Linked DNA regions of Homo sapiens. The protein of the gene in region 1 interacts with the protein of each later gene in a biochemical or structural test. Each region holds a gene or a part of one and is shown in the gene's direction. Other genes may lie near its edges. The genes, in order: SNCA, SIAH1, VAMP2 and SIAH2.

Region 1 (6,876 bases):
TGAAATTACACAAGAAGCCTATCGCAATCTCACTACCTCGTCTCTCTCACAGGTTTACAGAAGGTGAGAGGAAGGTGCAGATAGAGAATAAGAAGCAGGTGGCTCCAGCATCAACATTACATCACCCCTTGTGTTCACAACAAATACGGAATATTATCCAAAGATAATAAACGTTGTATTTTCTTAACTTAAACACATTAAATCAGTCCTCTCTTTAATCAATTGTTAATGGGCAGCATCTTTATTTTCATGCCATTCTACTCTGCTGTCTTTGCTATAGCACAAGTTTACCACATACCATACCTAAAAATTCAGTTGTTCTATGGGGGTAAACAAAGTCTAGGTTAAGCATATATTTCATAGAATGTTAATCTATAGCAAAATTAATGAATTAAATCCAGATAAAAGAATCCTATTATGGTCTGGTAAAATATTTATATTTCACTTAGCAAAGAGAAAACAAAACATGAATATTGTAGTTATGAACAGAATATGCATGTTAGTAATGCTTCCAAATATGTTATTACTTCATAACTTCATATTTCTTATGAGGTACAAGCCATTCAATTAGTTTAACGTTATATTCAGAGAGGCTAAAGATTTACTGAAGACCATGCTGTCCATCAATAATGAAAAGAAAAATTAAAAAAACTTTATTTTAACTTCTAGTTCCCTTCTTTGTACTTGAGCAGCTTTCCCTCCTTAAGAATACAGACCTAGAACATATGCAATATCACTATCAATATTATGTGTAATTAAAAGTTCATTGGATGTTTACTGTGTTCAAGGCATTTTAAGGAGTGACAAGAGTTAAACATATAGTTGTAATTCAAAATGACAACGAAATTAGTTTACAGTTTTCTTTTTTTGTAGGTAGTAAGAAATCATCTCCCCCTATTGAGGAATACCAATATAGAAAAGGCAAAACTTTAAATATGAATGAACTGTTTCATAATAACATAAGTTCTTCTTGATTTCCATTGTCACATCCAAATTTGAAGGCTATTTCTAACACAGCTGGGTTCTACCTTTTTCCTTCTCACTCTTTACCACACCCAATCTGTGAGGCTTCAGACACAAACTGCTAATTCAGGAGACAATTGTGCCTTCTGTAACAGTTTCTGCTAAATTGTCTCAGCTCTGCCACTTAAAATAGCTAGGTGATCTCAGCATATCACCAAAACTCTTGGAGCTCAGTTTCTCTGTCTATAAAAGTTACATAAAATGTAATTGATCTGCTTGTTATGACTAAATAACATAGTACATTAGTCCTTTGCCAAAGGACTAACAAATTACCAAATAAAAGTTTGGAATCATGTTAAACGTTTATAAGAAGTGCAACTGTCCAGAAATAATTCTCTCACATTGGTCTGTTGTAATGAGACCTAAAATATCTCATTTTATTTACCTCTTTGACTTAAAGCACTAGGTCTCAAGGAGGTCATGGTTATACTATAAATATGTCATGTGAAATAATATATTAAATAATTGTTGTAATACTCTATTGAGATACTAGTTGTAAAGAGGCACAATGGAAAACTTATACTATTAACAGTAGTAAAAAGAAACAACAAAAAGCAATAAAAAACAAAACACCCATTCATGCAACGACATGAACGAACCTCACAAATATTATACTGAGTAAAAGAAGTCAGACAAATATAAAACAAAGTTTATACTACGTGATTAGATCTTTATGACATTCTAGAATATGCACATGAAGGTACAAGGTAACTGTCTGGAATGATGAAAATGTCCTGTGTCTTCAAAATAGTGTGGGTTACACTAATGCATGGCTTTTTCAAAACTGATTTAAAGGGACACAACATCTGAGCATTTCCCTAGGTGTAAATTACACTGCAATTTTAAAGAATCATCTAATGATATTGTGGTTATTTTTAAACAGTCCTTAAATTTTGTGGATGCATACTGAATGTTTACAGCTGAAAAGATATATATAAAGCTTGAATTTGGTAAAAAAAAAAAAAAAAGAGGGAGGATTGGTAGTGATAAAGTGAGTGGACTTATGGATGAGACATGATCAGCCATGCATTGAAAAAATGTAAAAGTTGGATGATCTTCACATGAGAGTCCTTTATTCTGTCTACTTTTGCATATGTTTGAATATTTCCCATAACAAAAAGTTGAAAATAGAGTGATCACATGAGTTAATCTCCTAATTTACAAAAAAGAAAACTGGAAACAGAAGGAGAACAAAACTTGTTCAAGGTCTCAAAGCCAGACAGCAAACTAGCTCCCAAGTCCAACCTTCTTGCTCTGGTCCTAAGCAAACAAAAAATATTAATATGAGCTACTGCATTAAGGAAAGTCTGCTTTTCCAAAGGGCAGACCAATAGTTCAAGGAAGAGTTTAAATAATAAATATTTGTGATCTTACTTTCATGCTTTTCTATTTTCCACTGAACACATATGCATTATCTTCTATATGTCTTTTATGTATAATCATTTGCTTCCTGTTCCTTGTGGTTTTAAAGTTGTTTTGTATGTTTAAATTTGATTTTACTCAAATTTCAGAACCCAAATTAGCGCAAGAATCAGACAAAGCATAACTTTCTATAAATATAAAAACAATTAAAAAAAAAACATACAGCAAAAACGAGTTGTTGTTTCCCCCCTCCTCTTCCAGTGCTTAACTAATCTTCCGAATCCAGGCACAGAAAGCAAAGGCTTTCTGCTAGTGGGAGGAGCTTGCTTCTCCATTCTGGTGTGATCCAGGAACAGCTGTCTTCCAGCTCTGAAAGAGGTGAAAATGTGTTAAGCGATGCAAAAATTGTCTTGAAGTTCGCGTGTGTATGTCTGTGTGCATGTGCGTGTGGTGGGTGGGGGGAGAGAAAAGGGGGTGTCAATTCTGAGGGCAACGAGAATCAGAAGTCAGAAAGGTGAGTGGTGTGTAGCATCTCCCTTTCAGAAGGGGCTGAAGAAGAAATTGGATATGATGGTCCGGTAGGCTAAATCACGCTGGATTTGTCTCCCAGATAAAGGGAGGTCTGCAAAGTAAGTCCCATTTCTAGAGCGAAAAGCCTTAGGACCGCTTGTTTTAGACGGCTGGGGAATATTTATTCCTTGTTCCACTGATGGGAAAATCAGCGTCTGGCAGGCGCTGATTGGTGGAAAGGAAAATGGTGATAGTGGCGTGGAAAGAGGATTTGCTGAGCCTTCTCCTGCCTCCTCAACCTGTGACTCTTCCTTAGTAGTCTCCCTTTCACCCTCAGGACCCTTTCCGGCTCTTCCTAGATTAAGAGCAAACGAAAACCTTGAAGATATTTGAACTAAAGCGACCCCTAACGTTGTAACCTGTGACCGTGATTAAATTTCAGCGATGCGAGGGCAAAGCGCTCTCGGCGGTGCGGTGTGAGCCACCTCCCGGCGCTGCCTGTCTCCTCCAGCAGCTCCCCAAGGGATAGGCTCTGCCCTTGGTGGTCGACCCTCAGGCCCTCGGCTCTCCCAGGGCGACTCTGACGAGGGGTAGGGGGTGGTCCCCGGGAGGACCCAGAGGAAAGGCGGGGACAAGAAGGGAGGGGAAGGGGAAAGAGGAAGAGGCATCATCCCTAGCCCAACCGCTCCCGATCTCCACAAGAGTGCTCGTGACCCTAAACTTAACGTGAGGCGCAAAAGCGCCCCCACTTTCCCGCCTTGCGCGGCCAGGCAGGCGGCTGGAGTTGATGGCTCACCCCGCGCCCCCTGCCCCATCCCCATCCGAGATAGGGACGAGGAGCACGCTGCAGGGAAAGCAGCGAGCGCCGGGAGAGGGGCGGGCAGAAGCGCTGACAAATCAGCGGTGGGGGCGGAGAGCCGAGGAGAAGGAGAAGGAGGAGGACTAGGAGGAGGAGGACGGCGACGACCAGAAGGGGCCCAAGAGAGGGGGCGAGCGACCGAGCGCCGCGACGCGGAAGTGAGGTGCGTGCGGGCTGCAGCGCAGACCCCGGCCCGGCCCCTCCGAGAGCGTCCTGGGCGCTCCCTCACGCCTTGCCTTCAAGCCTTCTGCCTTTCCACCCTCGTGAGCGGAGAACTGGGAGTGGCCATTCGACGACAGGTTAGCGGGTTTGCCTCCCACTCCCCCAGCCTCGCGTCGCCGGCTCACAGCGGCCTCCTCTGGGGACAGTCCCCCCCGGGTGCCGCCTCCGCCCTTCCTGTGCGCTCCTTTTCCTTCTTCTTTCCTATTAAATATTATTTGGGAATTGTTTAAATTTTTTTTTTAAAAAAAGAGAGAGGCGGGGAGGAGTCGGAGTTGTGGAGAAGCAGAGGGACTCAGGTAAGTACCTGTGGATCTAAACGGGCGTCTTTGGAAATCCTGGAGAACGCCGGATGGGAGACGAATGGTCGTGGGCACCGGGAGGGGGTGGTGCTGCCATGAGGACCCGCTGGGCCAGGTCTCTGGGAGGTGAGTACTTGTCCCTTTGGGGAGCCTAAGGAAAGAGACTTGACCTGGCTTTCGTCCTGCTTCTGATATTCCCTTCTCCACAAGGGCTGAGAGATTAGGCTGCTTCTCCGGGATCCGCTTTTCCCCGGGAAACGCGAGGATGCTCCATGGAGCGTGAGCATCCAACTTTTCTCTCACATAAAATCTGTCTGCCCGCTCTCTTGGTTTTTCTCTGTAAAGTAAGCAAGCTGCGTTTGGCAAATAATGAAATGGAAGTGCAAGGAGGCCAAGTCAACAGGTGGTAACGGGTTAACAAGTGCTGGCGCGGGGTCCGCTAGGGTGGAGGCTGAGAACGCCCCCTCGGGTGGCTGGCGCGGGGTTGGAGACGGCCCGCGAGTGTGAGCGGCGCCTGCTCAGGGTAGATAGCTGAGGGCGGGGGTGGATGTTGGATGGATTAGAACCATCACACTTGGGCCTGCTGTTTGCCTGAGTTTGAACCACACCCCGAGTGAGCAGTTAGTTCTGTTGCCTACGCCTTTCCACCATCAACCTGTTAGCCTTCTTCTGGGATTCATGTTAAGGATACCCCTGACCCTAAGCCTCCAGCTTCCATGCTTCTAACTCATACTGTTACCCTTTAGACCCCGGGAATTTAAAAAAGGGGTTAATCTTTTCATGCAACTCCACTTCTGAAATGCAGTAATAACAACTCAGAGGATTCATCCTAATCCGTGGTTAGGTGGCTAGACTTTTACTAGCCAAGATGGATGGGAGATGCTAAATTTTTAATGCCAGAGCTAAAAATGTCTGCTTTGTCCAATGGTTAAATGAGTGTACACTTAAAAGAGTCTCACACTTTGGAGGGTTTCTCATGATTTTTCAGTGTTTTTTGTTTATTTTTCCCCGAAAGTTCTCATTCAAAGTGTATTTTATGTTTTCCAGTGTGGTGTAAAGGAATTCATTAGCCATGGATGTATTCATGAAAGGACTTTCAAAGGCCAAGGAGGGAGTTGTGGCTGCTGCTGAGAAAACCAAACAGGGTGTGGCAGAAGCAGCAGGAAAGACAAAAGAGGGTGTTCTCTATGTAGGTAGGTAAACCCCAAATGTCAGTTTGGTGCTTGTTCATGAGTGATGGGTTAGGATAATCAATACTCTAAATGCTGGTAGTTCTCTCTCTTGATTCATTTTTGCATCATTGCTTGTCAAAAAGGTGGACTGAGTCAGAGGTATGTGTAGGTAGGTGAATGTGAACGTGTGTATTTGAGCTAATAGTAAAAAATGCGACTGTTTGCTTTTCCAGATTTTTAATTTTGCCCTAATATTTATGACTTTTTAAAAATGAATGTTTCTGTACCTACATAATTCTATTTCAGAGAACAGTTTTAAAAACTCATAGTCTTTTAAAAAATAATCAAGAATATTCTTAAGAATCAAAATCATTGATGGATCTGTGATTTCTTTTACCATCATGAAAAATGTTTGTCAATTTTAATCCATTCTGATTTTTAAAATATGACTTTGATATGCCCCTGTGATGTGTATAAAGAGACCTATTTGTGGCCCTAAAATGGAAAGAACAGATTAGTCTTTGATAGAGTTACTTCATGTGATCATTTGGTCTCTGTGAACACTGAGGACAGAGAAAAGTGCTTGAGGGCTGCTACTAATCTCTCAGAAACATTTGTATAGTTCATCCATCAAATGACACACATACTAAAAGAATAAAGAAATTGATGCTTATTACCTACTTGTTCCTAAAGTTCCACCTTGGGGTATACACCCAAACTCTGACTCTCTTTTCTGTAACTTGAACTGTATTCAATTGAGTGTTATTTTACAAACCACTTTGAATTCCTTGGAAAAGAATAGACACACACTCTCATCCACAGGCATAGACACACACACTCAACACAGACACATTGCCCATTCTTCCTCTCTTCTTTCTCCTCTGAGCTTTTTCACATTCTCTGGTGGCAACTATAGCAGTAAGAGTCACAGGATGAACAGTCAGGTGGAGGATGACCACATTGAGTTGCCTAGCTGAAACATGTGCTCCGTCTATGTCTGCAAAGTGAAAGAAAGCTACACTATCTCTTCAACATAGATCAGTGGGGGAAATTTTATACTTGGGATGATTTATATGAATGCATCTCATCAAAGTTCACAACACATTTTTTTTTCAGTTTTTTATTTTCAGTTTTTAGAGTCAGGGCCTTGCTCTGTCGCCCAGGCTGGACTGCAGTGATGCTATCATAGCTCACTGCATCCTTGAATTCCTGGGCTCAAGTCATGCCCCCACCTCAGCCTCCTGAGTAGCCAGGATTATAGGCATGTGCCACTGCCTCATTATTTAGACTTTTCTTATGTTGACTTAATCTTCCCACAAATCTTCAATTAAATTACTTTTTTTCTACCTTAAAACATATTTTCAGAAAGTCATTGAAATAGGGTGTTACAAGAGGAAAAAATTGATGAGTTAATTTTAAATATTTTATG
Region 2 (7,023 bases), on another chromosome or scaffold:
CACGCCCAGCTGTTTTTTGTTGTTGTTGTTTTTTACTAAATTAAGAATAAACATGTTTTACTTTTTGCTCATTTTGACTGTTTTCACAGTTGTTAATCAGACTAATCTTTATAAAGCAGTTTATTGTCCCCTTTGGAGAAAATACAGCTAAAAATCACCAGTATCCTCATATAGGTAACTGATTCATTGGTCTGATGTTGTAGCCCTCTTGGTTTCTCACCCCGTCCCTCACGTCTGTGTTCTATTTGTAACTTCATTTACAATATATTATGATTTTTTTCCATATCTGACTACATTTCTCCATTTTAAACTTTTATAAGTAATTTATAAAAGGAAACAAAGATTACCACGTGGAATTGAGAATAAAAGTTTATCTTTCTACTGTTAAGTATGCTAAGGTGGTAAAGCAATGGCTGAATGCTCTGAAATTACTAAGACAACATTAAAGGCTGATTCTAAAATGTTTTTGTTTAGATTGACATCTACTTAAACTATATACCAAACTGGGCTTGGGACGTAGGCTTTAGAAAGTGTAGGTAATAGTGCATTCTTGCTAAGTTTTGGATTTTTGCCAGTTTTGGATTCTATGGGCTTGTCTTAAGGTACTTCTGTGAACTTTTCAGCTTTTTGTAAAACTAGTGTAAATATTCTACCTAGTTGAGAATTAAGGTTTATTGTGCTAAAAATTAAATGGTGGTTGATTCTTGGCAGACATGTTTGATCACCTTTGCAAGGTTAAGGCATCTTTTGGAGTGTGTTTCTTGGAATCTACAAATTCTGAGTCTGTGACTAATTGATGACTTGGCAATTAAATCAGGTCTCAGCTGAAAACTTAAATATTCTGGAATATGTACCATCCATGATACACATAAATTACCCATCTCAATCTAGACAAAAGCCAGTTGAGGCTGGAAACAGTCCAGTTTTACAGCTCAACAACTGGTGGAGCCGGGGTCTGAATCCAAGTGTAGATGACTCTAGAATGCTTCCACTTTTCTGACTTAATTAAGTAGAGGGGCCTGTCCATAGATCAGTGGTTTTCAGAGTGTGCTGTAAGGCTCTGTACAGATCTTTTGGAGTTTGGTAAACAGTGAAATATCTTTTGCTTGAGAAATAATCAGTCATCTTTTTGTTGTATACATTTTGGTTCTGTTTGGAAGAGTTTCTCTATATGAAATTTTCTTCTCTAGGGAAATTTAAGACCTGTCGAATGAAAAAATATTAGAAAATAAAAATATAGACTGGGCACAGTGGCTCAGCACTTTGGGAGGCCAAGGCAGGCTGATGGCTTTAGCCCAGGAGTTCGAGACCAGCCTGGGCAACATGGGGACTCCCTATCTTTACAAAGAAAATTAACGAGAGTGGTGGTGCCAGCCTGTGGTCTTAGCTACTGGGGAGATTGAGGTGGGAGGATTGCTCGAGCCCAGAAGACCGAGGCTGCGGTGAGTGGAGATTGTGCCACTGCACTCAGACCTGGGCAACAGAGTGAGACCCTGTCTCAAAAAAAAGGAAAAAAAGTAGTTGTGGGGCTGACTGTGTCTATTTTCAATTATATTTCTTTTCCTAATGCTGTTTTGTGTAGCCTGTATTGTAAAACGAGGTTGAGGTGATTGAACACACTTAATAGAGTGAGGAAGTGGTTAGAGTTAAAATTTCCTGCTGAAAGTGGGTAATCTGCAATTCCTTGCATTGGGTTCACTCCTCACTGCCAACTCTTGCTGCATTTTGAGGCTGCCCTAAGCATGATGTAATGACAGGTTAAACCTCTGCACGCACTAGCTGATGCAATGCAAATCTGAGGCGCAGGACTTTATTGGGGCAAGGGTAGTGCTTGTTTAAAAACAAAACAAGCTACTCTGCGTTTAATGAGGCCATTTAAGATGGCTTTCCCAGAGTGGGAAGAGAGTATAATCTCTTAGGAGGTTTAAGTAGGAGTTTAATGTGGCAGAAGTGTGCTTACTACTTTTCCTGCAAAGTCTTTTCACAGTGGGTAAGGAGAGTTTAAAATATAGTGCTGATAGGAGTAGAAATGAAGTGAGCTAGAATTGAGGAAATATGGTAGTTGATGCCCGGTAAATAGCCGTTGAATGAATTAGGGAGAATGTTTTCACTCTAAAAATTTAGAGTTCGCACGATAAACCTGGAGCGTAGCGCCAGTGTGGCCACGCATTTCCCAGATACGCTGTAGCTCTTAGATCGAAACCATAAGAAACTGCCGATATTCGACTGTTCTGACCTACCGAAAATAGCGTGGTTCCACCTAATTTTAAACTGGTGGAAATGCTGAGGAAGGTTCGATGTCGCTGGGGTGGGATGGGGTCAACGGCGGGGTGGCGGGGGCTCCCCCACGCCCCCGGCCTTTGGCTGGGGGGCGGGGCTTGCGGGCACGGCCCCACCCTTGCGCGAGCAAGACGGGCATCGCCCTGTGCGCCGCGCGCCCTGAACTGGCCCTGGCGCCCCGGGTTGGAGTAGGCGTTCCCAACGCAGGCCCAGCCCCGGCCGAGGCTCCAAATGGCTCTCCCGGCAGGCAGGCTCCTGCAGTAACTCTTGAGCTGGCTCAGGGAGCGCACTTCCTTCTCAGCCAGCGCGTCGCCCCCTGCATCCGTGGCCTCCACTGGAGCTGGGCAGGACCCTACCCAGTGAATCTGGAGAAAACAAACTTGGGAGACAGACGAAAGCTTAGGGCACATTGGAGGACAGCGCAGCTGTGGCTCCCATTTTTGGAGATGCAGTCGAATTTGAGCTCACAGGGAGGTGTGGTTGCCTCCTGGGGATGGAAAGGCTTCCTTTCTCCACCTCTGTAACTGGTGCTTCTGAGAAGTAAATGGTATTTGGATCCTGACCTCAGACGCGAATTTGGGTCTTCTGTGCTTAGGAGCAGAAAGAGCCCAGGAGGGGCCTGTTCCTTTACTTCTTGGGGGAAACGCAATGCGTGGCCTGACTTCTCATGACGGGAAAGGCTACTCCACCTTCTCTGTACTCCTGGAGGGGAGTCTTGTTCACATGTTTACCAGCGGCCAGGACAAGGAAGAGAAAAGGTATTGACATTAAGAGGATGGTTTGCTGAGGCTGTGAAACTTGAACGCTATTAGTCAGTGGAACCTGCCTGGCTTAGGGAATGGCTGCAGCAGAATCGAGACGTTTCCGAGGTTCTCAGTCATGTTTCATTTGGGCTGCTGTTCTTTTTTCTGTTTAAATCAAACTTCAGGTTACGTCATGACTTCTGCAGGGCTGTCCTTGGTTCCTACTGCAGGGCGCCTGTGTGGTTGGGATTCCTTTTCTGTTTCAAGATGGAGCTGGGTTCCACCCTTGGAGCTTTGAGAGGCTTTAGCAGTTGCTGTCCTGTAATACCTCCGTTCCCAAGAAATACCGTTCACATTTCGCTTCTTTTTCACACTTTGAATAGGAGTTAAAATGTGCTTTCTGTAGTGTTTGGAAAATGGCAAAGATATATTGTAATGTGAGCCCGAACTGTTGTTGATAAATGTATAACTATTGCTAGGTCAAGAAATTGTGAACAACAGTGTTTTGCTTGGTCCGTAGCTATATTGTGTTAAATATAAACTGAGTTTACTGCCCTTGGATGTGATTCTTTGGTTTGATTTAGTAATTTGAAAGGCATTGGTTGACTAGACTGTTTTTTGCCCAAGGAACCACTTTGTAATTGTTACGCTGCTTACTGAAGTAAACTGGACCATGCAGTAGGCATACAGCATACAGCCAGGGTGTTTTGGCAATGCTGAGCCCACTGTTTTACAAGTGACATAAAATGGATGTCATATGTACAAAGAATCTACTGAGAGGGAAACTGGATTACAGGAGAGCTCCCTTATAGTCCTTTGTCAGGGGACAGAATACCTGGGTCACACTGGGCTTCAGATTGAGAGTTGATTCATGTTCTGAGTCCATATGATGAGACACATTACGATGGAATTGTCACTTTTGTTGCCTCTGGAACTTTAAAATACCCGTTTAGTGACGTGGAATTAATCTTTATTTTTTCCGTCACCCTCAGCCCTCATTTAAGCTATCAGTTGGTAACCACTTGGGTAATCTAAACCTAAGTTGCATTTATTTGGTCACATTGGTAACCAACATTGCTTCTTAAAAGTTCCTTGCAACAGAATGACTATAATTGAGATAAAACATTAATTTTGAGGCTTTAATTTTGTAATATGGATTAGTGGCCGGGCGCAGTGGCTCATGCCTGTAATCCCAGCACTTTGGGAGGCCGAGGCGGGTGGATCACGAGGTCAGGAGTTCGAGACCAGCCATGGTGAAACCCCGTCTCTACTAAAAATACAAAAATTAGTCGGGCATGGTGGCGGGCCCCTGTAATCCCAGCTACTTGGGAGGCTGAGGCAGGAGAATTGCTTGAACCTGGGAGGCAGAGGTTGCAGTGAGCCGAGATCGCGCCATTGCACTCCAGCCTGGGCAACGAGCAAAACTCCATCTCAAAAAAAAAAAAAAAAAAAAAAAAAAAAGATTATGGCTTAGTAGAGTTACTAGGAGTGCAGTCTTAGGACATTGACTGATCTTTTTTTTCACCCCCAAGACAAATAGTGGCCTGCCATTTTCCAGCCCAGGTAGCTTCCTGGGAAAAGTTGCTTGTTTTATCTTTGACTCAGCCTGGCTAGTTACATTGTCGATTATTTCTTCCAGATGATATTTACCTGTTAAATAATGTTTATTACTCTGCTGATGAATGTTTTCAGCAACGCTGGAGAACCCTAGGCTGCAAGGGGTTCTTCACCTGTTGACTCCATCCCCCACCCCCAGTATGGCATATATCTCTGCCGTGCTATCATCTTTATTCTTTCCTTTTTCATTGTCTCTTCCTGACTGTCCTCCTTTGTTCATTATGTCTGACACATATTGTGGATTGAAAGTAGAACAGAAAGATATACTTTCTCTACCAGACTAAAAAGTTTTGAGATGGCCCTCCATTTCTCCCATGCCTCACTTCACCTTAGTTGTGTTTTTATTTATTTTTATATTTTCGCCACCTTCACTAGCGAGTACATCCCCTCACTCTTGAGGTGGGCACTGATCAGTAGGAAATAAGATTAATACCTGGCTGGTGATAATTTGGGGGGAAGACTTAATTAGATAGAGATGGATAATGGGATGGCAGCAGACCTTTCCCCTTGTGACCCTTCCCCTCATTTCCAAAATACACCTCTAGAGTAGATAATTGCTTACCATTAAGAAGAGTTAATGGAAGGTGATACTCTGATTCTTTGGCATTGGAACTACATTCAATCCGCGGTATCCTCGGATTAGTTCTAGGACCCCCTTCTCCATACCAAAACCTGAGGATGCTCAAGTCCCTGATAGAAAATGGTGTCATATTTGTATGTGCATATTCTCTTGTATAATTTAAGTGATCTCTGGATTACTTAATACAATGTAAACAATATGTAAATAGTTGTTATAGACTGTATTTTAAAAATTTTGTATTCTTTATAAATTTTTCTGAATATTTTCAATCCATGGCTGGTGAAGTCCTCGGATGCAGACCGTGTGGATACAGAGTGCCGATTTTATACAGGAGTTCACCTGTAACTCCCTGTACCTATCAACAGCTGACTCCAAATTAGAAAGAAATAGAGTAAGGGAGCCTCAGGGAGAGTCCTAGCAAAACGGATTCGATTAAACTTCAGTTCCTTGTATAGTTTCTTTAGTTGTTTATGGTCCATTTTCTATTTTAGCATTTATTATTCTATGTAGTCTATCCAAAGACGATTAAGGGAGTTCCACATGTTTTCCGGAACATTTTGAAAAGAGAGCTTATCCAGTGTACAGATCCTAATAAAGTGCACATTCAGTGTAATTTTATTTTTTTAATATCTTTTTTAATCCTATTTTTCTTCCTCTTTTGCTCAGTAAATTTTGTATGAAACTTTAAAAGGACTTATGGCATGTAAACATTATTTATAAAGTAAGTCATGGTTATAATTATTTTTCTCCTGCCTCCTTATGTATTTATTTCAGAAATGAGCCGTCAGACTGCTACAGCATTACCTACCGGTACCTCGAAGTGTCCACCATCCCAGAGGGTGCCTGCCCTGACTGGCACAACTGCATCCAACAATGACTTGGCGAGTCTTTTTGAGTGTCCAGTCTGCTTTGACTATGTGTTACCGCCCATTCTTCAATGTCAGAGTGGCCATCTTGTTTGTAGCAACTGTCGCCCAAAGCTCACATGTTGTCCAACTTGCCGGGGCCCTTTGGGATCCATTCGCAACTTGGCTATGGAGAAAGTGGCTAATTCAGTACTTTTCCCCTGTAAATATGCGTCTTCTGGATGTGAAATAACTCTGCCACACACAGAAAAAGCAGACCATGAAGAGCTCTGTGAGTTTAGGCCTTATTCCTGTCCGTGCCCTGGTGCTTCCTGTAAATGGCAAGGCTCTCTGGATGCTGTAATGCCCCATCTGATGCATCAGCATAAGTCCATTACAACCCTACAGGGAGAGGATATAGTTTTTCTTGCTACAGACATTAATCTTCCTGGTGCTGTTGACTGGGTGATGATGCAGTCCTGTTTTGGCTTTCACTTCATGTTAGTCTTAGAGAAACAGGAAAAATACGATGGTCACCAGCAGTTCTTCGCAATCGTACAGCTGATAGGAACACGCAAGCAAGCTGAAAATTTTGCTTACCGACTTGAGCTAAATGGTCATAGGCGACGATTGACTTGGGAAGCGACTCCTCGATCTATTCATGAAGGAATTGCAACAGCCATTATGAATAGCGACTGTCTAGTCTTTGACACCAGCATTGCACAGCTTTTTGCAGAAAATGGCAATTTAGGCATCAATGTAACTATTTCCATGTGTTGAAATGGCAATCAAACATTTTCTGGCCAGTGTTTAAAACTTCAGTTTCACAGAAAATAAGGCACCCATCTGTCTGCCAACCTAAAACTCTTTCGGTAGGTGGAAGCTAGACACATGAAGGTAAATAAAAAGAAAGGCTGTTAAATACAGGAAACAGTTGCATGTAGTAACACTAATATAT
Region 3 (7,193 bases), on another chromosome or scaffold:
CAACAGGAGCTTGTTAAACCCAGTGAATCTCTAATGAATGGAGGGTTGGAGAGTGAGGGACCGGAACCAGGAGTCCTTTCACGCACCCAATCCCAGGAGATTCTGATCTGCCTATGTCTTCTCCCACCCATACAGGGCTCTGGCATGTGGCACCCCCACCACCCACACTGCCCTGCTTCCCAGTGGCCAGGGGCCTGGGCCTGCTCTGCTGGCTGGTTCCCTGGTCGAACCAGTAAAAAGTGATCAGTGCTTCGCCAGCCCAACTAGGACTGTCCTTACAGAATACTGGGCACAAAGGTCCTGCCCAAACACATCCTTCCCGTTAGCAGTCTGTCTGCCTGCTATGCACTCACCATAGTTTATTATTCATTTGCCTGCCTCGTTCCTGGCACTGTGCTTGGTACTTGTTCAGAGAGAACTTCACATATTAAAAAGATACCACTTTATGTGTTTACATTATGCTTTAATACAAAAAGAGACACCTTCTTGACCGGGTGCATTGGCTCACGCCTGTAATCCCAACACTTCAGGAGGCCAAGGTCGGCAGATCACCTGAAGTCAGGAGTTTGAGACCAGCCTGGCCAACATGGCGTAACCCTGTCTCTACTAAAAACAGAAAAATTAGCAGAGGTTGTAGTGAGCCAAGCTTGTGCCACTGCACTCCAGCTTGGGTGACAGAGGGAGACTGCCTCAAAAAAAATAATTAAAAAGGCCGGGCACAGTGGCTCACACCTGTAATCCCAGAACTTCGGGAGGCCAAAGTGGGCAGATCACCTGAAGTCAGGAGTTTGAGACCAGCCTGGCCAACATGGCGCAACCCTGTCTTTACTAAAAATAGAAAAATTAGCCAGGCATGGTGGCGGACGCCTGTAATCCCAGGGACTCGGGAGCCTGAGGCAGGAGAATCTCTTGAACCCAGGAGGCAGAGGTTGCAGTGAGCCGAGATCACGCCACTGCACTGCAGCCCCGGCCGACTTCTAAACCAGTAATTGTCTGAAGAGAAAAAAAAATTACGAAATAAGGCCGGGCATGGTGGCTCACGCCTGTAATCCCAGCACTTTGGGAGGCCACGGTGGGTGGGTCACCTGAGGTCAGGAGTTCGAGACCAGCCTGGCCAACATGGTGAAATCCCGTCTCTACTAAAAGTACAAAACGATTAGCCGGGCGTGGTGGTGCACTCCTGTAATCCCAGCCACTTGGGAGTCTGAGGCAGGAGAATCACTTGAACCCGGGAGGTGGAGGTTGCAGTGAGCCGAGATCGCACCATTGCACTCCAGCCTGGGCAAGAAGAGCGAAACTCCATCTTAAATATAAATAAATAAATAATAATAAAAATAAAAAATAAAAGAAAGCGTTTATGAAAGTGTGGTCTCGGCCAGGCGCGGTGGCTCAAGCCTGTAATCTCAGCACTTCGGAAGGCCAAGGCGGGCGGATCACGGGGTCAGGAGATCAAGACCACCCTGGCTAACACGGTGAAACCCTGTCTCTACTAAAAATACAAAAAATTAGCCGGGCCGGGTGGTGGGCGCCTGTAGTCCCAGCTACTCGGGAGGCTGAGGGAGGAGAATGGCGTGAACCTGGGAGGCGGAGTTTGCAGTGAGCAGAGATCGCGCCATTGCACTCCAGCCTGGGTGACAGACAGAGACTCTGTCTCAAAAAAGAAAAAAAAAGAAAAAAAAAAGAAAAAGAAAGTGTGGTCTCTGTTGCCTACATCACCATCACCTTGAGTCCTACATCCTTTGAATGAGTCTTGGGGGTGTGCCCTAGAAAATCATTGGCCAATTCCCGAAGCCAGTACATGTAGAAGCCAAATCTGAGTTATGCAAATACATTATTTTTCTATTGTTCAACTTACCTCTATTTGGGTCTCCATTCTACCTGCCTGCAGAAAACATTCTCTCAGTCACTTCCAGGTGAACTCCGTCATCCCACTCCTTCTCCCACCTCCACCATTGATCTAAATTTGGGGAGTTCCTCTGAGCCACAGCCTAGGTGGGGTGGGGTGGGAAGGGGCTGCTGGATGAGAGTCCTCTTTCTGAGATGAATCCTCCTGGGCCCTTCATCTCCGTGGGTCACACATGCCCTCATTTCTACTCTGCTGCTGCCGTCCCCACGATCCAATAGCAATAGCACGACCCCTGGCCTTGACCGTGTATCTGGGGCTCTGTCCCTTCCACATCACCCCCAAACCAGCATCAAATGTCTTGTCTGGCTCTGCACTAGGCTCCCCTCAGTTAGTGCAGGGTGTCCAACTGGGGGCGGAAGGGCTTCCTGTGCCTGCCTCTTCCAATCCTCCATGTCTTATTTATACCCTGACAGACACTGAGGGTTTTGAACTTAAAAGGCTGGAATTTGGCATCTTTGTTCTCTGACTAGAAAGAGGAATCATTTGAAGACCAAAAAGCAGGAGCCAGCATCTCACAGCATGATCTGAGACCCCCGTGGAAGCTGCTCTTTTCTTTCTCATCACATAGGCTGAGCCACCCGGGACTGTCAGTGCACAAGGACCAGGGACGCGGCTGCTCCTCTGAGGGGGAGGAAGCCAAGAGTATCTTCTCTTAGATTGGGCTGAGTTCCCACACCCAGCACACACATTCCCTGCTCACTCACCTCCCACAGACAGCTGGGAAATGACACCTCTGGTGACAGAGCCACTCTCCGGGCTTCTGTGGGGAGCGGGTGGGGCACTGCAGTGGGGGAGGATCTCACACCCGGAGGCCCTGGGAAGCCAGGGTGGGGGAGGGAGGAAGCTGGTTCCTGTTTGTCTTAGAGATCAAGGCCATCAGCCTCCCTGCACCTTCCAGGGATGTAGTAAGCACCCCCACCCCAGGGCCAAAGGGCCTCGCCTAAAATGCCTCCTGCACCCTTGAGGCTTGCTTTGACCCCCTGCACTCCACCAGAGCGACAGCTCCCCTGGTCCCATCTTCTCTGACAAGCTGGGTGGGAGTGTATACAGCTGCTGGGTGTGCTTAGAGGGCCTAATGGAGACCAGCCAGGGATAATCTCCTATGTTATCCACATCAAGCCATTTAACAAATATGGATTTAGTACCTACATATGCAATGTATTTGGGGTCCAGAGAGAGGAGGGCAACGGTCCAAGGTCACACCTGCGAGGCGAATACGCATGTAAAGCAGCACCTTGTAACCTGTGCCCACTGTGCCTACTACTAAAGAAAAAAAAATGAGAGAAAAAGAAAAAAGGCTTTTTTTTTTTTTTTGGCCCAGGCCCTGTGCCTGGGACCAAAGCCTGAGCCCTTTCCTGCAGTCGGGTCGCTGACCTAAGCCTGGGGCAAAGCTAGGTCTTGGCCAGTCAGCAGCCACCACGTGAAGCAGCCCCTGCCCCCATCACCCCCGGCAGCCTTGTGCCCTCCTCCTCGGGGTCCTCAGCTCACCCCACCTCAGTCGGGCCTGCTCCAGCGGTTAAGTACCCCTAGTCTGAACCTTAATCGTGAGGCGGGGCAGCCCCCTCCCCACACCCTGTAGACACTCCCCCGTCCTCCGCCCCCTGGACTTGTTTGGGCGGGAAGAGCCTGCCTCATCTTTTCTTCCTACCCTCCTACCCAGTGGCCAGGGACCCCAGGCTTCCTCTGAGACATCCACCAGCGGTGATGGGTTGGGACCAATCTCCCCCACTCCTCTCCACCCTAGCAGTAAGGTCCCCGCTCTCGATACTGCCCCAGCACCTGCACTGGCCCTCTCTGATTTCCCAACTCCAGCCCATTCCAAGTGCTGAAGGCGGGTCGCTAGGTGCTGGGACCTGGGCGCGGGGCAAGACCTTGGGCTGTGTGGGGTGCAGGCTGGTTTACTGGGTTCACGATTGAGGGAGTGGTCTGGGGGTTAGGTGTAGGGCCAGGCTGCGTTGTGCTCTAAGGGGCAGGCGGCAGGCGGTTTGGGGGGGCTGTGGTCAGACAGGGTGGGGTGGCGGTGGGTTTGGGGAAGCCGCAGCAGCCCGCCTTGGGGTCCCGCGAGTGCCGAGGGAGCTGCCGGGGCATGGTGGCGCGGGGCCCGTGGTCCTGCCCGGCACGACCCCCGCCCCGCAGCGCCCCGCAGCGCCCCGCCCCCGCGGCCCCGCTCGCGACGCGTCTCCCGCGGCGCCCCGCCCCCGCCCGCAGTGCCCGGATGCGGGTGACGCGCGGCCGCCATCTTTCCGTCCCGGGCAGCCAGCGCCAGTCGGAGCCAGCGCGAGCCGCCGCCGCCATCACTGCCGCTGCCAAGTCCTCCACCCGCTGCCCCCGCCATGTGAGTCGGCCGCCCGCCACCCTCACCGCGCTTCCCTGCGCCGGCCGCCGCCCTTGGCAACCGGCCGTCGGGAGTGCCCGGGGTCTCTCCTGCGTTCCCCGCGCCCCGGGGCCAGGCCCAAGCCGGTGACTGCGCGCGGGCGGCCGAGGAGCCCCGCGTCCCGGGCTGGCCGGCTCGGGCGATGGCCGCGGGAAGGAGCGGACCCAGTGTCCTCCTGCCCCTCCCCGCCCCTGTCACCGCGGCCGCCTGTCTTTTCGGGTCGACCCGGATCGCATCTGTGAGGTCGCCCTCAGTTGACAGGCGGGGAAACTGAGGCCGGGGGGGCCTCGCTCAAGGTCACGCAGCTCATCGGCGGCAGGGCTGGACCGAGACCAGGGCTTACATCGGGTGGCCTTCCTCCCGAAAAGGAGGACTGGAGGGACGAGGATGGACAGGTGGATGGGCGGAGCCCTGGCTGCGGGGCCGGGAGGCTGCAGGCCCTGGGTCTTAATCCGTCCCTGCTCCTCAGGTCTGCTACCGCTGCCACGGCCCCCCCTGCTGCCCCGGCTGGGGAGGGTGGTCCCCCTGCACCCCCTCCAAACCTCACCAGTAACAGGAGACTGCAGCAGACCCAGGCCCAGGTGGATGAGGTGAGTGTGGGGGGAGTCAAAAGCAGTAGGAGGGACCCTGGGGGTTGGCGTATAGGTGTAGGGGCCCATGTTGGTTTGGGAGTGATGACAGTTCACGCCTGTGGGTTTGCGGACAAAGATACCATGCCCCATCCCTGTCTCCCTGTCAGCACGCACTTGGAAGGGCGCTGGGGGTGTTAATCAGCTTTGCTAGCCTGGGGTGTGCCAGCCTGGGCAGGTGTGCTCTGGTGATGGACAGAGCGCCTGAGGTTCCATAGAGGGAGGGTGTTGCTATGACATCTGAGATGTCACCAGCATGCCCCTGATGTGTGCTCCTTGCATGTCCCCAGGTGTGCTAGGCATGTTCTGTGTGTCCTTGGCATGTTAACCTGGCAGTATCAGGGTGCATGTTCCATGTGTGGCACGGTGGGCACATGTTTGAGGATTGCCCTCACTGAGGTGGGCCTTGGCACACCCCCCTGCCTCGTGGGCCCTTCTCCCAGGTGGTGGACATCATGAGGGTGAACGTGGACAAGGTCCTGGAGCGAGACCAGAAGCTGTCGGAGCTGGACGACCGTGCAGATGCACTCCAGGCGGGGGCCTCCCAGTTTGAAACAAGCGCAGCCAAGCTCAAGCGCAAATACTGGTGGAAAAACCTCAAGGTAAGGGTGGGGACAGGAAGGAGGACAGGTGGGTGAATGGGGTATCATAGTTTGTCTTACTGATCCTCGCCTCTCACCCCCAGATGATGATCATCTTGGGAGTGATTTGCGCCATCATCCTCATCATCATCATAGGTGAGTAGGGTGAGAATGGCCGGGGCCCTTTCCCTGGAGAGGTTTCCCCAGTGGATTCTAGGTTTTGAAGGTCATTAATCTAGTTTTTACTCTTCAGCCAAAAACACATATAGCTGCTAATGGCAATTCTGATTCATCTAGAGCCAAAAACTTTGATGTTATTTAGCCTGCATTTTGCCTAGTTCTTGGCAGTCTTGTTAACATTTGGAAATAGGAAAGCTGGTGTATCCATTGAGGACCCTTTAGGCCTAAGAGCCCAGTCTGAGAACCCTGGAATTGAGGAGTGGGAGAAAGGAAAGGACCAGGGGCTTGAGACATGACCAGGAAGCCAACCACCCCATTATTTGAGAGCTTGCGGTCTCAGAGGCTCAGAGGATTAGGGTCTGTGGCTTCAAGGCCATACCATGGAGCGGAAGGGACCTCAGAACCTACCTGTCTAGCCCCTTGCTTTGTAGATGGAAAAACTGAGTCCAAGAGAGGGTGTCAGCCAGCTGGGGAGTGGGGAGGATTGGAGCAGGGCCAGGCCTGACACACTGCTTTCTTGTTCTCTCTCTTTCTCTCCCCTCTCCCTCTTCCTCATCTTCTTCCCCTCTCTCCACAGTTTACTTCAGCACTTAAATCCCCGAGGAGTCTGCCCTGCCTAGAGAAGGGCCTCTCCCCCAACCCTCAGCCGTTCCTCCACCTCTCAGCCATATCTTTCAGCCCCCACTCCCCTGGATCCGTGTGTGTGTGTGTCCGTGTGTGTGTCCCCCTGTAAATAGCCAGCTGTTATTTATACATATATAATATTATATATATTTGGTCTGTTTGTAGTTTTATTACTAGATGATTTTTCCGGTTGTCCTTAACACCCCTTCCTGAGGTTCCCTTCACCCCTCTCTCTTGCCTTCCTTCCCTTTCCCTTTCTTCCTGACTAGCCCCAAGTCCCTTCATTTGCATCTGCTATGCAATAGTCCCTCTCCTTTCCTTCTTCTTCCCTCAGATTTAGCTGATCCTTCCTCCCACCCTGGCCTTCCTTTCCTCTTTCCTCCTCACTCTCCCCGTCATGCTCCCTCTGCCCCGCCCTCAAAAAAAAAAAAAAAAAAAAAAAAACAACAGCACCTGTCCAGGCTTCCTTAGGTACATCTTCTTTGTATCCATTGGGAGGCTCTGAGACTGGCCCCACTTGGTCCTAAGAATCCCAAGGTCTTTGGGAGCGTCCAGCATGTTAATTAGCGTATCATTACATACTGCTATCCCTTTCCATTTCTTTTTGTTCCATCACTCTTCTCTCAACCTGTGTTTCTTTTTTTACTGAGGAGTTAGTCCCCATTAGTTCTTGTATCACATTTTCATTTGCACGACATTACTCGCAGGTGGTGGGGAGCCTGGGCTTTTGGGGAACCAGGCTGCTCTGGTCCCCAGCATTGCCTCCTCCTAGCCCCTCTAGTCCAGTTTGCCTCCCTTACCCTCATTTTCCAAACCTCTTGTACCCTCCTCTCCCTCCCCCAGCTGGTATGTAAGTGTCTTGAAGTTCAGTATGTTATGATGGACCAATAATTCTGCCA
Region 4 (7,578 bases), on another chromosome or scaffold:
GAGGTGCTAAGGGTGTAGCCCTCATGGAGAGGGTTGGTATCCTTAGAAGAGTCCTGAGGGAGCTTCCTTCCTATCTCTGCTACGTAAGGACACAGTGAGAAGGCTGCCATCTACAAACCAGGAAGCAAGCCATCGCTAGACACCTGTGGCACCTTGACCTTGGTCTCCCCGTCCTCCACAACTGTGAGAAATAAATGTTTGTTATTTAAACCACCCAGTTTATGATATTTTATTATAGCAGCTCGAGCTAAGACAGCAAGCGAGAGGAACGGAGGGACAGTAAGACAGAATTCATAGTCTTTTTTAACCTAATCTCAGAAGTGACATTCTATCACTTTGACCATATTCTGTTCACTTAAAGCAGGATCAGCCCTCATTCACAGGAAAGGTGTTACATATTGGGCGACACCAGGAGGAGGGATCCCTGGGAGCCTTCTTAATGATGACTTCCTACAACTCTCTTGGCCTCTCTGTACCTGTTTTGTCATCTATAAAGATCTACCCTATAAAAGACATTGTGAGAATTAAGAGAATTAAAATATGTAAAGTACTTGGAACACTCCCTGGTACAGGGTGAGCACTAATTAGCTAAGTGTGGATACAAAAATAATGCAAATACATAGAACTGCTCTTAGTACACAGTGCTAAGTCCATGATGGTTGTTCAAAAAAATGCTTGAATTAGGAGTACTTGAGTATAGGAGTTTGAGGCCAGCCTCGGCAACACAGTGAGACCTCTTCTCTACAAAAACTAAAAAACTAGCAGGGCGTGATGGCACGTGCCTGTAGTCCCAGCTACTCAGGAGGATCCTTTGAGCCTGGGAGGTTGAGGCTGCAGTCAGCCATGATCCAGCCACTGCATTAAGCCTAGGTGACAGAGTGAGACCCTGTCTCAAAAAAAAAAAAAAAGATTTGAATTAAGAGACCTACAATTATTCAAAAGAAGTTTGAGCATTTGGAAATTACCCCAGAAACAGATGAAGTTAAAAGTTCCTACTATAATTACCAGGGGGCCTTACATCACCTCCAGATTTCCCACAAGCTTCCCCTGATGAGGAATTTCCATGCAGCAAGCTCCAATGCATACCTGAGTCATCTCTAAAAAGCCAACCACAATTTGCTCTGCAAATGCACATTTGCCTGATGGCAGAAGTTGCCTGATTTGCAAAACCACACAATTTGTAAGTTACAGAAAAAAGGGCAAGAGCTTGTCTGCCTAGCTGGAGCATTTCTCACTGTGCTCAGCAGTTTAGTGAAATTAGGAACTCACCTGTGAGGTGTTTTTTTTAAGACTCACCCTGCTATTTTAAGGAAAGAAAAGGCTACTCAGTACACCCCTAGTCTTTCAAGCTTAGCATAGAGCAGATGGGTTAAGGAGAGGTGTCCTGCTTGACATATGCAATCTGGGACTCAGTAGGTGGGCGAATGAGACCAACCTCTCATACAGTAGATGTGGTAAATGAGTCATGAATCAGGAGATAACAAAAGGCTGGACCCTGCTCCCCCAGACCACAAAGTCACTCACTAAACAGGCCAAGAAGCAGCAGCGACACTCCAAAGGGTAAATAAACCTCCCAACAACTCAACTCAGCACACATTTTGAGTACACGCTAAATTCGACCTCTGAGCGGACTGCCCGCTGGAAGAGGAGGCTCTAGCTCATAGTGCCCGGTATGCAAAGGTCACCTTTCTTTGTTTCAAAAGTCACCAAGGAAGGAGGAAGAAGAAAGGCGACTGGGAAGACCAGCCTGGTCATTGATGTGGCTCACATAGCAGACCTATCCACTCTCCCCCTGCCTACCTTCAGCAACTGCCCAGAGTTTTTTTGTTTTGCTTTTGTATTTTAATTACCCTGGTTGACTTAATCAGGTGTGCAATGATGTGAAGGAGGAAGAAAGAAGAAATTTCTCTATACCAGGGGAGGCATCTGCCAGGGTAAGAGTGGATGGGTTCGCTGTATTTTTAGAAAAATAAACCAAATTCTCTCTGCAGAGAATTGCTTTTCCTGTTATTTCTTTCAACACCTCCCAAACCAAATTGTTTTCTGAATGACCAGGGCCTATCTAGCTGGAACACTTAAAGCTCGTGTCAATGGGGCAAGGGTGAGGACTCCAGTCTCCTAATGAGAGCTAGTAAGAAGCCGTGGGGATGGAGGTCATCACACAGAGAGGCTAGAAGTGGAAGGAAAGAAAATGTGTTCCATTAATAAATTCCAAATGCTTTGATTTTAAATTAAGAATGAAAAATATTACATTTCCTCCAATAACAGTAAAACAGTAGGTGATTTTTGTGTTATCACTTATATTTTGTGTCATAAAAAGGTGAAAATGAAATAAATAGAACATGATTTAATTTTTCTCTCTAGACCAGCTAAGGAAAGAGTTTATGTAAAGTTTGCCCACAAAATTTAGTGCTTTATTATAGGCTGAACAACTGTTTTCTGACTCTGTTGAGTGTGCTAATCTTAACTGTTTAACAAGACTGTAAGTAGGAATCAGGCATAATTTAGAGGCATACAGACTAGTAGTTAAGAAGGGCTCCTAGCGTGTTCCCACATTCTCAGCTGTGTGATCTTGAGCAAAGTAACCTATGTCTCGGTTTCCTCAACTGTAAAATGGAGATAACAGTAGTATTCATCACAGAGAGTTATGATAAATACTTAAAACTATCCATGCCCAACATACAGTGGGCACTCAATTAACATTAGTTATTATTTTATGCTCCCTACCTATCCAAAAACTCAGGTTCAGCCATGTTACTAAAGAGCTTCCAAAAACCTACAAAACCTAGTGTTGTTGTGTGTTCTTAAAAAAACAAACAAAACCCTACAGTGGTTTACCCCTATCATTGAGGTAAATGTCTTATTAAGCCAGTTGAGGCTCCCCTTGTGCTAACGCCACACCCCTACACTCCCGTTATATCCCCTCCAAGTCCCAATGCAATCCCAGAATACATGCTTTCACTCTGTGCTTTTTAGCTCCTGCTATAATGCCTGCCCACCCCGTGGTATCTGAAATCCTTCTTCTCCCACGAGTGCTTGGTTATTGGGCCTTGCTCTCTTACTAGAATGTAAACTGCATGAGAACCATTCTCAGAGCTCCAACAGTAGCTGACACATGATAAATGCTCAGGAAACATTTACTGAACGATTGAATACACCTATTAAGTTTTTTCAAGATTTATACCAAATTCCATCAATTCCATGCATGTATTCTTTCTACAGAAGCCCTTTGTAAGATTAAACTTTATTTCTTCTGGGCTCTTACGCCATATTTCTTGGACAAATTGTATTCATTCATTTTAAACATCCACTAATATTTTTAAAAGATAAGAGCTAATGTTTAAACAGTGCTTATGATGGGCGAGGTTGTTTTAAAAGCTTGAAATATATTAAACTCATTTACTCCTCACTGCCCCACCTATAAGATAGGTATTTTTTTTTCCACTTTTACAGTTGGAGGGAACCATTTTTCACTCAGTCCTAACAGTTGGTCCTTACCTCTGTGTCTCCTATAAATTTCCGATTTCTACCTAAGGTAACCCTTTCCCCAATTCCGGAATCGTTGGCTCAAGCAAAGTCTGCAGAAAAACAATTTTAACTCGGAGCACACAGTTACATTTGGACATGCGGTTCACCCCGGGCAACCGTGCCCTCTAGCGCTTCTGCTGGGCGCGCAGGGTGGCCCTACGCCTCGCAACAAAGACTCGGACTTCGGCCGGCTCTCTACCAAGCGGACGCAGCGCCTTACACTGGAGTTTCACCCACTGTCTTCAGAGACCTCACGACCCAACCTACGTTTCTGACATTTCTAGATGATCTCGAACTCTTAGCCAACGCTGCCCATGAGCTCCCTCCTCGGCCTGCTATACGAGCCAGGGGCGCTCAATTCAACGAAGCTTCCTCCTGGTCCGCTGGGAAAGGAATAAAGGGAGCTTACATCCTCCCCACCGCCCCCCTCTTTACTCAACCCCACCGTTAACTGTACAAAACTAGGTCCTGTGCCCGCTGCAGACCCAACTCGAGCCCCTCGCCCTGCTCCCACCCAATGCTTCTCGTCCTGACTCCGAACACAGAACGCGGGTGGCCGCTTCGCCCTCTTCTCCTGCGTGCTGGTGACTCAGCCCTGAGAAGAGAAACCTCTCGGTTTTTTCCGACTAGTGCAGGGGCGCCCGCGCCCCGCCCCTGCCCGCCCGCGTCCGGTCCCACCCACCGTCCACGCTCCCGCCCCGCCTGAAGTTGCCTTTCTCGTTTGAGCTGAGGGACGCGTCAGCCAGGCACCCCGGGGTGTGGCCAGAGGACTTCGGCGACGCTTCCCCGAGAGTAGCCCCCCTCCTCAACCCAGAAAAGACAACCCCGCGGGGCTGCAGCGAGCCAGGCATGCTCACTGGCGCAGGCCCGGCCCGCAGCCCGAGCAGGAAGCGCCGGCGCTAGGCGGCCCCCTGCGCTGCCAGCTGGAGCCGGGCGGAGCCAGCGCCCCGGCGCAGGGTGGCTCTGCCAGTCCCCGCGCGCCTGGGCGGCCGCACACGTGTCCAGGCGTCACGTCCGCGCGCGCCCCCGGGGCTTGCGTCAGCGGCTGTTCCAGAAGCGGGTGGGCCAGGGCTCTGCGCACCGCTGGGGTTCGGGGCCCGGGACGCCGCCGGGAGGAGGGCACCGCGCGGGGTCCGACGCGGAGGCGTGCTCGGAACGCCGGGGGCTGCGGAGTGCATCAGCGCGGTCCAGCCCTCCGCCTGCCGGGCGCCGAGCGTCTCCGCCGCCCGGACCTGGGCTGGGCGCCGTGGCGTTGCCTCGGAGCTCGCTGCCCGCGGGGCGCGCACCGCCTTGACCCGGGCGGCCCCGCGGCAGGCAGGCGCCCGCAGTTCCATGGTTGGTTCGGAGCGCGATGAGCCGCCCGTCCTCCACCGGCCCCAGCGCTAATAAACCCTGCAGCAAGCAGCCGCCGCCGCAGCCCCAGCACACTCCGTCCCCGGCTGCGCCCCCGGCCGCCGCCACCATCTCGGCTGCGGGCCCCGGCTCGTCCGCGGTGCCCGCCGCGGCGGCGGTGATCTCGGGCCCCGGCGGCGGCGGCGGGGCCGGCCCGGTGTCCCCGCAGCACCACGAGCTGACCTCGCTCTTCGAGTGTCCGGTCTGCTTTGACTATGTCCTGCCTCCTATTCTGCAGTGCCAGGCCGGGCACCTGGTGTGTAACCAATGCCGCCAGAAGTTGAGCTGCTGCCCGACGTGCAGGGGCGCCCTGACGCCCAGCATCAGGAACCTGGCTATGGAGAAGGTGGCCTCGGCAGTCCTGTTTCCCTGTAAGGTAAGCCCAGGGACAGCCCACGTACCTCCGCCGGTGACCTCAGGGACTCCGGTATCCGCCAGCCCACTCGCAGGCCCGGAGAGGCGGGCGGCATCTCTCATTTAAAAAAAAAAAAGAAAAAATGTTTACACTTCGTCCACCCTCCCTCAAGCCCACTTTGGGTGTAGGTCTGGGTTGACATTTACCGAGTAATAATTGTTAATAGACAATTAACAGATTAATTGGCATTTGCTGATCGTTAGAACATCGTAGCTCACCCGGCCCAATGCCCGCGTCCTCTGCAGACGTGTATTCGGGTACTCTCGGTAGGGCTGGGCCGCACCAGTAAAACTTGGACCGAGAAACTGACTGTGTGGGGATTGAGGAGGGAGGAAACGGGCGAGCTAAACGCCCCCTTTACCAGCGCTGGGCTCGGCTGAATTGATAATTGGAGTCCTGCACCCCGCGCCTACCGTCTGCGCACCCCTGACACGTGGGAGCTCTCGGGATTGTAGCTAAAAAAAGGGCGCCTACAGCCTGTTTTCCTCTAGCTAGAAGAAAACCCTGCAAGCCACGCCTTTTTCTCTCCTAGCCTTCCAAAGACTGGGAAGGACTGAGGAGTTGTGGCTGCGTTGTTGTACTAAGTGGGGTGAAAACAGTCAATCAAGAAATTAACAAGGGCACTCAAGAGCTGTTGTTACAGTTGTTTAAAGCTCATCACTTCATTTTTTATTTAATGTAAAAAGTTTTCAATGCCCTTGCGAAAAATGCAAGCCACCAAGACAAGAAGTAAAATGAAAGACCAAGATCTCTCCCCTCCTTTCCCACCATTGTTAGGTTTAGTGTGTATCTTTTTAAACTATATATACATACACCCTCGCAGCTAAATATAGAATCATAGATGTCAGTGTATGTCAGGGAGGTTTTTTAATACCCACACATAGATGTAAGTTTTTCTCCAAAAATGGCATCTGCAACTTGCTGTTCTTAAATTCATATTATCACACATATTTCTCTATGCCTGAAACCTAGTCGACTTCATTGTATTTTAAATGGCTGCATAGTATTGCATTGTGTGGTCATATTATAACATTTGTTTACCTGCAGCTATTACGTGGAAACCTTCAGGAGCAGTTTCACAGACATACTTGTCTACGTTATAACCTAGAAGTATACTGTAAAGTCATTTTCTGAAATTAGAAGTGGAGATAATGTCACTAATACTTTCCAGTTTTTTTGTAAAAGTAACTTGCGCTGCCTCTTGGGCCATTTAAGCTGTCTTGCATTTCTCCTTGGTGCTGCTTATTTTATAGGACAAGAGCTCATTTTTAAATTAAAAATAATCCACCAGAGAATTCAGGCTTGGGACTCAGGTCAGTAAAATGAGTGCTTTAATTTGGTCTGCTGCCCTGCTGCAAATCAGGTTTAAAATAGCATATTTAAATAAGAGTTTGAATCGGTGTTTGGACTAGGGTGTTTCAGGCAACCTTAATAAATTGCTGTTAACCCCTCCTCATATAGTGCTTACTAATTCACTCAGCCCAGTTTCTCAAAATTTAGATAAAGTATTTGCATAGTTGTCTTAGGGTTGTGAAAAAGGTGACAACCTAGTGGTTGGAAAAGGTTTGGTGGTAGTTAACATAGAGTGGCTATTTGATGCTTGAGATATATTGCAGGGGTGGGGGATGCCCCATAGGATTTCTGGGGAGCCATTTTCTCACCCCTTTACTTTCCCTTAAACGCGCAGCGGCTAACAAAAGAAATGGCTTTTAGGTGAGTTTTAGTTCACAAATGAGCATTTGATATTAGTCAGTAATCCATAATTTGTTTTTAAAATGTAACCATAATAGAATTGTGTTGTTCCCAAGAGAAAGGGAAGGAAACAGTTATGCTATATGGAGCATGAAGTTTCACTTTCAGGATCTAGAACTCTGGTTCCTATGAAAGCATACGTTCTTTCCTAACGTGAAACAGGCTACTGAAATCAACCTTGAAGAGTAGTTCTGGGAATCAGGGGTTCTCAGCCTTTCTGTACATGTCAGTGGTTTTCTGAGTCTCTATTCTATAAGAATGCAGTGGGGTAAAGCTATTACTTTGCAAGCTGAAATTTAAAAGGGCCAATTATTCCCCTGCAGACCAAGAACCAAGCTTAGGATGTGATCTTGGGGATGCTTTTGTGTGTGCATGTGTGTGAGTTGTATAAAGCTGGGGTGTGTGTCCCTCACCTTTGGTTGATCAATAATCCAAACTATTGGCAGGGCAGCTCAGCCAGTTAGTCTGGATAAACCAAACTTGAATGTATA

What was found.
Region 2: the proteins of SNCA (region 1) and SIAH1 form a complex in vitro, tested with the Homo sapiens proteins (3 studies listed by BioGRID, with this or other methods).
Region 3: the proteins of SNCA (region 1) and VAMP2 form a complex in vitro, tested with the Homo sapiens proteins (3 studies listed by BioGRID and IntAct).
Region 4: of the proteins of SNCA (region 1) and SIAH2, one has a biochemical effect on the other in vitro, tested with the Homo sapiens proteins (4 studies listed by BioGRID).

Annotation. Positions count from the first base shown.
Region 1 is NC_000004.12:89,834,139-89,841,014, reverse strand, and holds the start of SNCA (alpha-synuclein), read left to right. Parts: upstream 1-3,853; 5' UTR 3,854-4,053; exon of another isoform or gene 4,054-4,272; intron 4,273-4,280; exon of another isoform or gene 4,281-4,614; intron 4,615-4,774; exon of another isoform or gene 4,775-4,888; intron 4,889-5,322; 5' UTR 5,323-5,347; coding exon 5,348-5,468; intron 5,469-6,876. UniProt on the Homo sapiens protein: Neuronal protein that plays several roles in synaptic activity such as regulation of synaptic vesicle trafficking and subsequent neurotransmitter release.
Region 2 is NC_000016.10:48,361,402-48,368,424, reverse strand, and holds part of SIAH1 (E3 ubiquitin-protein ligase SIAH1), read left to right. Parts: intron 1-2,537; exon of another isoform or gene 2,538-2,947; coding exon of another isoform or gene 2,948-3,038; intron 3,039-5,421; exon of another isoform or gene 5,422-5,994; coding exon of another isoform or gene 5,995-5,996; coding exon 5,997-6,845; coding exon of another isoform or gene 6,846-6,948; 3' UTR 6,949-7,023. Other genes in the region: LONP2 (lon protease homolog 2, peroxisomal), read right to left, coding at 6,829-6,948. UniProt on the Homo sapiens protein: E3 ubiquitin-protein ligase that mediates ubiquitination and subsequent proteasomal degradation of target proteins.
Region 3 is NC_000017.11:8,159,926-8,167,118, reverse strand, and holds the start of VAMP2 (vesicle-associated membrane protein 2), read left to right. Parts: upstream 1-4,170; 5' UTR 4,171-4,239; coding exon 4,240-4,241; intron 4,242-4,242; exon of another isoform or gene 4,243-4,667; coding exon of another isoform or gene 4,668-4,675; intron 4,676-4,749; coding exon 4,750-4,870; intron 4,871-5,352; coding exon 5,353-5,511; intron 5,512-5,594; coding exon 5,595-5,646; intron 5,647-6,247; coding exon 6,248-6,264; 3' UTR 6,265-7,193. UniProt on the Homo sapiens protein: Involved in the targeting and/or fusion of transport vesicles to their target membrane. Major SNARE protein of synaptic vesicles which mediates fusion of synaptic vesicles to release neurotransmitters.
Region 4 is NC_000003.12:150,760,151-150,767,728, reverse strand, and holds the start of SIAH2 (E3 ubiquitin-protein ligase SIAH2), read left to right. Parts: upstream 1-4,559; 5' UTR 4,560-4,879; coding exon 4,880-5,296; intron 5,297-5,321; exon of another isoform or gene 5,322-5,392; intron 5,393-5,553; exon of another isoform or gene 5,554-5,792; intron 5,793-7,578. UniProt on the Homo sapiens protein: E3 ubiquitin-protein ligase that mediates ubiquitination and subsequent proteasomal degradation of target proteins.